2 separate regions of the Homo sapiens genome follow, and region 2 is linked to region 1. Evidence: fine-mapped expression QTL. A gene starts in region 1. The other region holds a variant in brackets. All regions are shown on one strand. Distances are between the middles of the regions.

Region 1 (5,364 bases):
CATCATGGCCATCCTGAACGCCACAGTTGGTAGCGCTGGTTGATTAAGTCACATGTACTCCAAGCAACACCTGAGACCCCCGTCGCTGACAACACCTTCTTAAGAGACCCTGGCAGCTCCGAGCCAGACCTCATGTTACTATGCGTTTACCGGTCAACGGGGGTGCCCCTGAAATACCTGCTCGTCTACATGATGGAAACAGCCCAGGAGGCACTGGGCAAGAGGAGATTCTAACGACACCTCAGCACTTGCCAGCACAGGCCCTGCGTGTGAGAACATCTCCTGCCGCTCCCACTTCCTCATCGCGGGTGTAACAGCGCTGCACGCCGGTGCCCCTCAGAACAGGAAGGGCCTGCCTCCCACTGCTCCCTGCCTGCTCAGCACCTGATGCATTCAAAATCAGTCCTACACCCCAGTGGGGTTCCAGATGAGGAACAAGTTCCCAGGAGGCAGAGGATGTCTCCCAGACCACACAGCAAGGAAGGGGCCATCCTGCCTGGCCACCATGCCCCCCTGCTCTCCAGGAGGACACAACAGCAGGGTGCTGGTTCCCTTGTTGCTCTGAGTCTCCTGTTAGGCAGAAAGGAGCACTTGGCTGCCACGGCAACTTGCGGGGACTCACTGTGGTGGAGTAAAGATGAAGAGGTAGAGACGCTGCCATCAGAGGCCGTCCAGGACCTCTGCCGACCCGTAGGCTCCACACCTGAGTCTCATAAGTGTCAGGAGGTTTCCTTCAAAGTCCTCAGAAAAAGCAGCTATGCCCAAAACCTGGGGCTTCATTCTAAACTCAGAAAAAATGTTCTACCTGAAGAATTATCTCCTCGGGAGAAACACCAGGACTTGTGGATACAGTGTTAAGGGTGGGGAGCCCTGGTGACCCCTCCACCACGTCCAGTACTGGGCTGCGCGAGGGCAGGGACCTTGGAGCATCGTGAAAAAGGACTTTTTCCACCCACGGCATGTTCAGAGCCACTGTTGATAAAAACTGTACCGCTCACGACAGCCTGCCCCAGCCCAGCCTCAGTGAGTGACACGGTTTGAATCTGTGTCCCCGCCAAATCTCACGCTGAATTATGATCCCCAATGTTGGAGGTGGGGCCTGGCAGGGTGGGTGTGTGGGTCACAGGGACAGATCCCTCGTGGCTTGGTGCTGTCCCGGTGATAGTGAGTTCTCACAAGATCTGGTCATTACAGTGTGTGGCACCTCCCCACCCCCAACTCTCTTGCTGCTTTCGCCATGTGACGTGTAAGCTCCCACTTGGCCTTCCGCCATGACTGGGAGCTTCCAGAGGCCTCCCCAGGAGCAGATGCCGGCACCATGCTACCTGTACAGCCTGCAGAACCGGGAGCCAATTAAATCTCTTTTCTTACAAATTACCCAGTCTCGGTATTCCTTTACAGCAATGCAAGAAGGCCCTAACAGTGAGCCAGGAGGCCACTCACGCCAGGAGCCCATCATCTCTGAGTCAGTCTACACCAGCTCTCCTGCAATATTAATGCTATAGAAGAAACTGCCAGGCAACTCTCAGGAGAGAATTCAGAGCAGGAAAGGTTCTCTGAAGTTCCTGGCGCCTATCCTCTCATTTGCAAATGAAGAAACTGAGGTTTTGCACGGTGGCCACTAACCGGGGACACAATTGGGCCCAAGAAGTGGTCACCACTGCCCTCACTCTGTGTAAATGAGAAAGAGGAAACAGCCATCATCTATGGGACCAACTAGAGTGCAGGCCCGCCTCCACCTGGGGGGCCATCAGGGTGCGGGACCCGCCTCCACCTGGGGGGGCCATCAGGGTGCGGGGCCCGCCTCCATCTAGGGTGCCATCAGGGTGCGGGACCCGCCTCCACCTGGGGGGCCATCAGGGAGCAGGGCCCGCATCCATCTAGGGGACCATTAGGGTTCAGGGCCCGCCTCCACCTGGGGGACCATTAGGGTGCGGGGCCCTCCTCCATTCGGGAGTCAGAGCTCGGGGCCGCCTCCATCTGGGCACCGGGCCCTCCTCCATCTGGAGACCATTGGGGAGCGGGGCCTGCCTCCCTCTGGGGCACCATGGGGCACGGGGCCCGCCTCCATCTGGGGCTCACAACGGGCGCAGGCCCCCTCCCCCGGGGCTGCCTCCCCAAAGCTCTGCCCCGGCACGGCGGTGAGCTCAAGCCTCCTGCAGCGTGGGCGCGTCCGTCCGGCCCGCCCCGCCCCGAGGTGTGGACGCCGCCGCTCCCCTCCGGCCGGCCAGGCGCCCCGCGTGCCCCGGGAGAGCCGCGGAGTCGGCCCGCCAGCCGCAGCTGAGCAGTAGCCCTGACCCAAGGCCCCGCCCGCAACCGCAGGTCACCGCCCCCGCCCGACCCTCGCCCGGCTGCCTCACCGGCCCGCGCTGAGTGCTGACGGTGGTCGCCATGGTGCTGCGGCGGCCCCCGTGGCTCGCCGACCCGACAGTGACGCGCCGGGCGACCTCCTGCGCCCCCGCCGGAGCCTGCGACGGAGACAGTTGTCACCTCGAGGCCGCCGCCGCCACAGTCAGCTGACAGCCGCCGCGCCCCGCCCCCGGCACCGCCCCACTGCGCAGGCGCCGCGCCAGGCACCGCCCCTTCCGGCTCTCGCGCGCACGCGCGCTCCAGGGTAGGGCAGGCGCAGCCTCTCGCCCGGCGCCTGCGCACCTGCTCTCTCCTCGAGCCCTGCAGCCCGGCGAAATGGCTCCCGGCGGGGCCGTTTGCGCATGCCCAGTCATGACGGTTGTCGGCGCGGGCCCTAGCGTGGCGGCGCTGCAGTCTGGGCAGTGGGTTGGTTCCTCCTCGGTCCTCTGTCGAGTGGCGACAGGGCCTAGCCACCTGGCGGGGGTGACCTTCGGACGTGCGACCCGCTCGGAGAAGGGAGGGAACTGTGGCCCGCAACAAAGCAGTGACAGGCCCGACATCCCCTGCAGGGCGATCTTTCCCTCAGCTGCCTGCCGGAGGAAGGGCCTTTCTGTTTCACAGGGCTAAAGATGGGGCGCGGTTCCTCCACGGGGCGGCTGCCGGGTGAACGGAACGGGGATGGAGGCGCTGCCAGAAGAGCCCGAGCTCGAGCCCGCCCTGCCCTCGGCCTCCCCGCCGCGCCGCTCCGCAGGAGCCCCGCTCCTCTCCTGCTCGCTCCGGAGAACCCCAGTCCGGCCTGACCTCGGCCCTCGCGGTCAGGCGCTCCAACCAGAGCGACTCCAGCTCGAACAGCGCTGGGTAAACTGAGGCTGAACCCCGCTGGCTGCATCCCCAGGAGTCGGGCGTTTACGGTCACGGGAACAGGTTAATAAACTTTTACGCAGCAGACCCGGAACTTAGGTCCCGATGTCCGGGTATCTTAAGAACAAGAAGCATTCTTAGTTGAAGTTTCGCTTTAAAGATAATGATACAGATGCTTGCGGAGGACAGGCGTTATGCAAAGATTGGCAATCCTTTGACGAGCCCAGGTAGTACAGCACGTCTCCCCCGTGATGTTTTTTGGCTTTTATCTTACATATAAACAAGCGTACCCAGGTGGACGCCTTCCTCCTCGTGCTTTTGGGAACACCCTGCTCTATGGAGTAGCCATTCTTTTATTCCTTCACTGCCTTAATAAACTTGCTTTCACTTTACTCTGTGGACTGGCCTGGAATTCTTTCTTCCACAAGATCCACGAATCCTCTTTTGGGGTCTGGATCAGGACCCTTTTCCGGTAACACAACCACTCCACTAAAAACTCTTTGTCAGTGATCTCTATATTGTTAGTGGTCAGTTCTCAGTCCTCGTCCTCCGGGAACTACAGCAAAATCGATAGTCATTCTTGCTACACATGCTTTCTTCACTCCCCATCCAGGACACCATGTGCTCTCACTTTCCTCTTATCCCAAAGACCACATCTTTGGGTCTCGGTTACCAGTCTCTCCTTTTAAAACCGGCAGCCTGGCCGCTTGCCTGTTTTGATGGGGTGTAGAGAAAAAGAACGAAAGCCCCTTCCTCAAGTTGTAGCTTAACATCCAGCCAATCCACAGCACAAGACCCAAGAAGCTATTAACCACAAGTTCCTGCTTTGGGGGCCTAGGGACTTCCCCGGGCCCCACATGTGCAGTTAGACTTATACTTCAACTATTGTTACCCCTTCCTCATTTTCACGCTAAAAATCACACCTAGGGGTAGAGATTTAAAATGTGAATGTTGCATGCAATGCATGAAGAAGCATGCAAAGCTACTGAGAAGCACTAGACAAACCCCTCCTATCCATGCCTGGACCAATCCCTTCCCTGTGAAACTAACCCACGTGCCACCCCCTGGCGGCGGGGCCCCCCACCGTTTTCCTTTCATGGTGCTGACTTCCTTGTGCACAAGCTAAATAAAGATTTCTCTTTCTCCTCGCTGCTATGTCTGCTGATCTCTCTTTATTTCTATCCTGGGAGATTACAAGATGCCAGGGCACACTGGTAACACTTTGACTCCTTAACATCGGAGTGCCTTACCTCAGGGCTCAGTCCTTGCACATCTTTTCTATCTACATCCTCAGTGAGCTCATCCAGTTCCATTCCTTTAAATGCCATCCATATGCTGATGATCCTAAAATCTGTATCTCCCACCAGGACCTCCGCTAAACACTAGATTCAGCTCTTGCCTTAATATTATTCCCCTATGGGGTGGACAGGTTGTAAGGTAGACATATGATCCCTGCCTCCTGGTGTTCACATCCTTGAATAATCCTCTTGTCTTGAGGGTGGACAGAGCCTGTGGCTTGCTTTTAAACAACAGAATATGGCAGTGGTGATGGGATGTCCCTCCCATGATTACCTGATGTTATAAAAGACTCCATCTTGCTCTCAGACTTATTCTCAAGGGTCTCTCAGCTGCTGGCTTTGAAGAGGCGAGGTGCCATAATTCCTACAACTTCAAGGAAACAAATTCTGCCAGGAATCTGAGGGGGCTTTGATCCTTCCCCAGTCAAGCCTCCAGATGAGAATGCAACCCAGCTGACAACTTAATTATAGCCTCGTAAGACCCAAGAATAAGCCAGCTAAGCTGTGCCTGAACTCCTACCCCACAAAAACTCTGAGATAAGTGTGTGTTGTTTTAAGCCACTAAGCTTACAGCCACGTGATCTGACTTAAGCATTATTAGAATTCCAGAAGAAAAAAGGAGAATGAGGCAGAAAATCTGAAGAAATAATGGCCAATAATTCTCCAAGTTAATGGTAGGCACCAAACAAAATATTTAGGAAGCAATGGATTCCAAACAAATAAACAAAACACTTAGTCAGGTCATATTCACACTGCTGATAACAGAAAGCAAGGAGAAACTCTTAAAAGCAGACAGAGGAAAATGACACATTACATCCAGAAGAATGAAGATTAGAATAGCAGACTTCTCATTGGA
Region 2 (5,364 bases), 230 kb before region 1:
GGCACCGGGAGCTGGGGGGACACTCACCGTGACGGGCACCGGGAGCTGGGGGGACACTCACTGAGGGCACCGGGAGCTGGGGGGACACTCACCACGGGCACCGGGAGCTGGGGGGACACTCACCGCGCCGGGCACCGGGAGCTGGGGGGACACTCACCACGGGCACTGGGAGCTGGGGGGACACTCACCACGGGCACTGGGAGCTGGGGGGACACTCACCACGGGCACCGGGAGCTGGGGGGACACTCACCGTGACGGGCACCGGGAGCTGGGGGGACACTCACCACGGGCACCGGGAGCTGGGGGGACACTCACCACGGGCACCGGGAGCTGGGGGGACACTCACCACGGGCACCGGGAGCTGGGGGGACACTCACCGCGGGCACTGGGAGCTGGGGGGACACTCACCACGGGCACTGGGAGCTGGGGGGACACTCACCACGGGCACCGGGAGCTGGGGGGACACTCACCGTGACGGGCACCGGGAGCTGGGGGGACACTCACCACGGGCACCGGGAGCTGGGGGGACACTCACCACGGGCACCGGGAGCTGGGGGGACACTCACCACGGGCACCGGGAGCTGGGGGGACACTCACCGTGCCGGGCACCGGGAGCTGGGGGGACACTCACTGAGGGCACCGGGAGCTGGGGGGACACTCACCACGGGCACCGAGAGCTGGGGGGACACTCACTGTGCCGGGCACCGGGAGCTGGGGGGACACTCACCACGGGCACCGGGAGCTGGGGGGACACTCACCGTGACGGGCACCGGGAGCTGGGGGGACACTCACCACGGGCACCGGGAGCTGGGGGGACACTCACCGTGCCGGGCACCGGGAGCTGGGGGGACACTCACTGAGGGCACCGGGAGCTGGGGGGACACTCACCACGGGCACCGAGAGCTGGGGGGACACTCACTGTGCCGGGCACCGGGAGCTGGGGGGACACTCACCACGGGCACCGGGAGCTGGGGGGACACTCACCGTGACGGGCACCGGGAGCTGGGGGGACACTCACTGAGGGCACCGGGAGCTGGGGGGACACTCACCACGGGCACCGGGAGCTGGGGGGACACTCACCACGGGCACCGGGAGCTGGGGGGACACTCACCGTGCCGGGCACCGGGAGCTGGGGGGACACTCACCACGGGCACCGGGAGCTGGGGGGACACTCACCACGGGCACCGGGAGCTGGGGGGACACTCACCGCGCCGGGCACCGGGAGCTGGGGGGACACTCACCGTGGGCTGAGAGCCCTTCTCGGTGCACTTCGGGGTGGAGCGGCTGCTGTGCCCCAGCCTCACCCTCACTGCGTGGCCTCTGCGGTTCCAGCCAAGACCTGCCCCGGGAACCTGGTGTACCTGGAGAGCGGCTCGCCCTGCATGGACACCTGCTCACACCTGGAGGTGAGCAGCCTGTGCGAGGAGCACCGCATGGACGGCTGTTTCTGCCCAGAAGGTGCGTGTGGAGGATGGCCCCGCCCTGGCACTGCCCACCAGATGAGAGGCAGCCCTGGCCTGGGGTTCTCGCCTGCGCTGAGGGGACGGCTCCGCTGGGTGGTGGGGGCAGCGGCGGCACAGAAGTGCCTCTCCCTCCACCCGATACCGGGGGAGAAGGGGCCTCGGTGTGAGGCCCTTCCCAAAGGGTGGCTTCAGGGAGGCCGGGAAGGGGGCTGCCTTCCTGGTTATCACCCTGGGGACAGACCTCCTCCTGCCCGGCCCCTGGCCTGGTGCCTGAGGCCTTTGGGAGCAGCTCGATTGTCAGGGGCAGGAAGGTGGCCTGGAGGCTGGACCCCCATGGCCAGACCCCAACCCAGGGACCAGGTGGGGACCGCAGGCGTCAGCACAGGGGACCAGTGGTGCCTGCGGGTGGGAGGCCTGGCTGGCAGCCCCTCGGTGGGGATTCTGGCTCTTTCTGAGCCAGCCGGGGTGACATCGCCTCCCTGGCTGTCCCAGGCACCGTATATGACGACATCGGGGACAGTGGCTGCGTTCCTGTGAGCCAGTGCCACTGCAGGCTGCACGGACACCTGTACACACCGGGCCAGGAGATCACCAATGACTGCGAGCAGTGGTGAGTCCCGGGGCCAGGGCTGGGCACAGCAGAGGCTGGGGCGGCTGAGCCCTGACCCTGTGCCCCGCTGCCCAACAGTGTCTGTAACGCTGGCCGCTGGGTGTGCAAAGACCTGCCCTGCCCCGGCACCTGTGCCCTGGAAGGCGGCTCCCACATCACCACCTTCGATGGGAAGACGTACACCTTCCACGGGGACTGCTACTATGTCCTGGCCAAGGTAGGCTGCCCAGGGTCTGGGGCATGGGGCAGAGCTGGGGCTGGCATCCAGGCCCTTGGCTGTCCCGGGGTGGGTGGGCTGGCTGTCCCTGAAGCAGAGGGTGCCTGTGGGCTGTCCTGGGGCAGGTGACCATGCTTCTGCTCTCTGGCTGGAGAATAAGAAGCAGGCCTTCCTTTCTAAGCCACTGCCGGGTCCTAGGGTGCAGGGTGCTGCCCGTCCCGGCCCTCAGCAGCTGCACTGCCTCTTGCCCCATCACAGGGTGACCACAACGATTCCTACGCTCTCCTGGGCGAGCTGGCCCCCTGTGGCTCCACAGACAAGCAGACCTGCCTGAAGACGGTGGTGCTGCTGGCTGACAAGAAGAAGAATGTGAGTGGTCCTGCCCCCTCCTTCTGGAGCCCCAGGTCCCCCGAGGGGGGCCCTTCTCAGCCCTGAGCAACCTCGGCCTTCCCTGCAGGTGGTGGTCTTCAAGTC[C/T]GATGGCAGTGTACTGCTCAACGAGCTGCAGGTGAACCTGCCCCACGTGACCGGTGAGTTGCGCCCCAGGGAGGGGCCCGGGCCCTTCGAGCTCCACTGGGCCTGCAGTGATTCGGACAGTCCAGCCACCTCGGACCCAGGAGGCTGGGTGGGAAGGTTCCACGGGGGGAGGGTCCCTGCGGCACCCAGCAGGCTCCGTCCTGGGTCCTCTGCTGGAGGGGGTGGTGGGAGGGTGACACCCTCCCGCTGCTCACCTGGGCCAGGCAGGTCCCGGGAGCCCCGCCCCTCGCCATGCCCCTTACCGTGTCCCTCATCGTGCCCCTGCCCACAGCGAGCTTCTCTGTCTTCCGCCCGTCTTCCTACCACATCATGGTGAGCATGGCCATTGGCGTCCGGCTGCAGGTGCAGCTGGCCCCAGTCATGCAACTCTTTGTGACACTGGACCAGGCCTCCCAGGGGCAGGTGCAGGGTAAGTGGCCCCACCGGGGTTGCCCCAACAAAGGCCCACAGGGGGGCCTGCTAGCCCCAGACTCTTCCCAACCCTGTCCTGGCCCCTCAGGCCTCTGCGGGAACTTCAACGGCCTGGAAGGTGACGACTTCAAGACGGCCAGCGGGCTGGTGGAGGCCACGGGGGCCGGCTTTGCCAACACCTGGAAGGCACAGTCAACCTGCCATGACAAGCTGGACTGGTTGGACGATCCCTGCTCCCTGAACATCGAGAGCGGTGAGGCTCGGCAACACGGGCGCCCCCACCTAGCGTGCCTAGGGTACCCGGCCCATGGCCTGGAAGGGCAGACGGGGCTCCCAGCAGGAAGCATGGGTGGTGAGGGGCAGAAGTGAGGTGGCTCTCCTCCAGGGGCAGCCCGGCCCCTGCTGCTTCCTGCTGTGGCTAGTTTATGGCGGCCATGGTGGCAGCCTGCCAGGTGACCTGGAAGAGGGCCTGGGCTGGTCCCTACCTGCCCCGTCATGTCCAGGATGCTGGGCCCTTGGGGGTGAGAGACGGGAGGTGGTGGGTGCCCTGCAGGGGTTTCTATCTAGCCAGGAGCTGCCTGGAAATTTGACTCACGGGGAGGAAGGGGCCTGGGCATCGGTGCACAGAGGGAACCATATCTGGGGCCTAGGCAGCCAGGCAGCAGGGCCCAGGGGATCTCACGGGGGTCCCGGGCCCCGCTGAAGTTCCGATCCCCCACTCCCCAGCCAACTACGCCGAGCACTGGTGCTCCCTCCTGAAGAAGACAGAGACCCCCTTTGGCAGGTGCCACTCGGCTGTGGACCCTGCTGAGTATTACAAGGTGGGTGGGACCCACACCCCCAGGCCCCCATGCCATCAAGGTGGACTCAGGGCACCCCCAGCCCCCCATGCCACCCGTGAGGTGGACTCAGAGCACCCGGTTGGGCCCACTGGTTGCTGTGTGTGCGTGTGAGCTTGCGTCTGTGAGCGCCAGGCCACACTCTGCCTCCCTGCCTCACTGCCCGTCCACCTTGCTCTGTCGCCCAGAGGTGCAAATATGACACGTGTAACTGTCAGAACAATGAGGACTGCCTGTGCGCCGCCCTGTCCTCCTACGCGCGCGCCTGCACCGCCAAGGGCGTCATGCTGTGGGGCTGGCGGGAGCATGTCTGCAGTGAGTGCCGTCCCCGTGGGCTGCATCCTGGGGATGGGGTCCGGGCTTTGAGCTCCTGGGACGGGGCTGGGGGCCCTGAGCACGGGTGGTCCAGGGAGAGGGGTTGGCCCCCTGCAGCCACGGACCAGGCTCCAGCTTCGTCGGCCGGTGGTAGCAGGAAACCAGCAACTCCTATAGCAAGGGGCGGCCACGTAGCAGGGGCAGAACCTGGGGTGGGCCTGGAGCTGTGGCGGCCGAGTGTGGGAGTGGGTCCCAGAGTGTGCACTCCCTGGCCCCCTGGCCACCCTGGGGATGGGAGCTGGGCGTCTGGCTCTTCCCGTCCCTCACACCACCCCGTGGTCCTCTGCAGACAAGGATGTGGGCTCCTGCCCCAACTCGCAGGTCTTCCTGTACAACCTGACCACCTGCCAGCAGACCTGCCGCTCCCTCTCCGAGGCCGACAGCCACTGTCTCGAGGGCTTTGCGCCTGTGGACGGCTGCGGCTGCCCTGACCACACCTTCCTGGACGAGAAGGGCCGCTGCGTACCCCTGGCCAAGTGCTCCTGTTACCACCGCGGTCTCTACCTGGAGGCGGGGGACGTGGTCGTCAGGCAGGAAGAACGATGGTGGGTACCTGCTCGGGGGTCAGGTGTGGCGTGGGGGCGGGGGAACTCCTTCTGAACCTGCCCCAAGCGGAGACCTGGGAGTCTCTACCTGGGGAAGCTGAGACACCCAAGGCTGAGGGGTGCCTGGGGTGGGGGGCGCTGAGAGGCATCAGGCTCACATCTGCGGGGAAGCTGCTGGCTGTCTGTGGCCGTCCTGCATGGGCCCCGCTCATCCCTGGCCTTTTCCACAGTGTGTGCCGGGATGGGCGGCTGCACTGTAGGCAGATCCGGCTGATCGGCCAGAGTAAGTGGCACTGCCCCGGCCACCCCTCCCCAGCCACCCCTCCCTGCCTGCCCTGGCCACCCTCCCCGGCCACCCCTCCCGGGCCTG

Evidence for each region. PIP is the estimated chance that this variant, and not a neighbour inherited with it, causes the effect.
Region 2: its variant is the best candidate, but not a certain one, in a credible set for the expression of TOLLIP in whole blood (INTERVAL, PIP 0.53).

The regions. Positions count from the first base shown.
Region 1 is chr11:1,307,106-1,312,469 of GRCh38, forward strand. It overlaps TOLLIP (toll interacting protein), which reads right to left and starts at 2,527. Exons shown (of 6, transcript NM_019009.4): 1 at 2,361-2,527. The coding sequence starts at 2,393. It overlaps TOLLIP-DT (TOLLIP divergent transcript), which reads left to right and starts at 2,603. Exons shown (of 1, transcript NR_029409.1): 1 at 2,603-3,602. RefSeq lists silencers at 1,983-2,692, 4,218-4,347 and an enhancer at 2,923-3,684.
Region 2 is chr11:1,080,330-1,085,693 of GRCh38, forward strand. It overlaps MUC2 (mucin 2, oligomeric mucus/gel-forming), which reads left to right. Exons shown (of 58, transcript NM_002457.5): 7 at 1,333-1,458; 8 at 1,956-2,073; 9 at 2,152-2,290; 10 at 2,549-2,659; 11 at 2,748-2,817; 12 at 3,096-3,233; 13 at 3,324-3,488; 14 at 3,962-4,056; 15 at 4,263-4,389; 16 at 4,739-4,994; 17 at 5,225-5,277. Among named protein-coding and RNA genes, the nearest start is that of MUC2, 8.1 kb to the left of the region's middle. The variant C/T (reference allele first, on the strand shown) is at 2,765.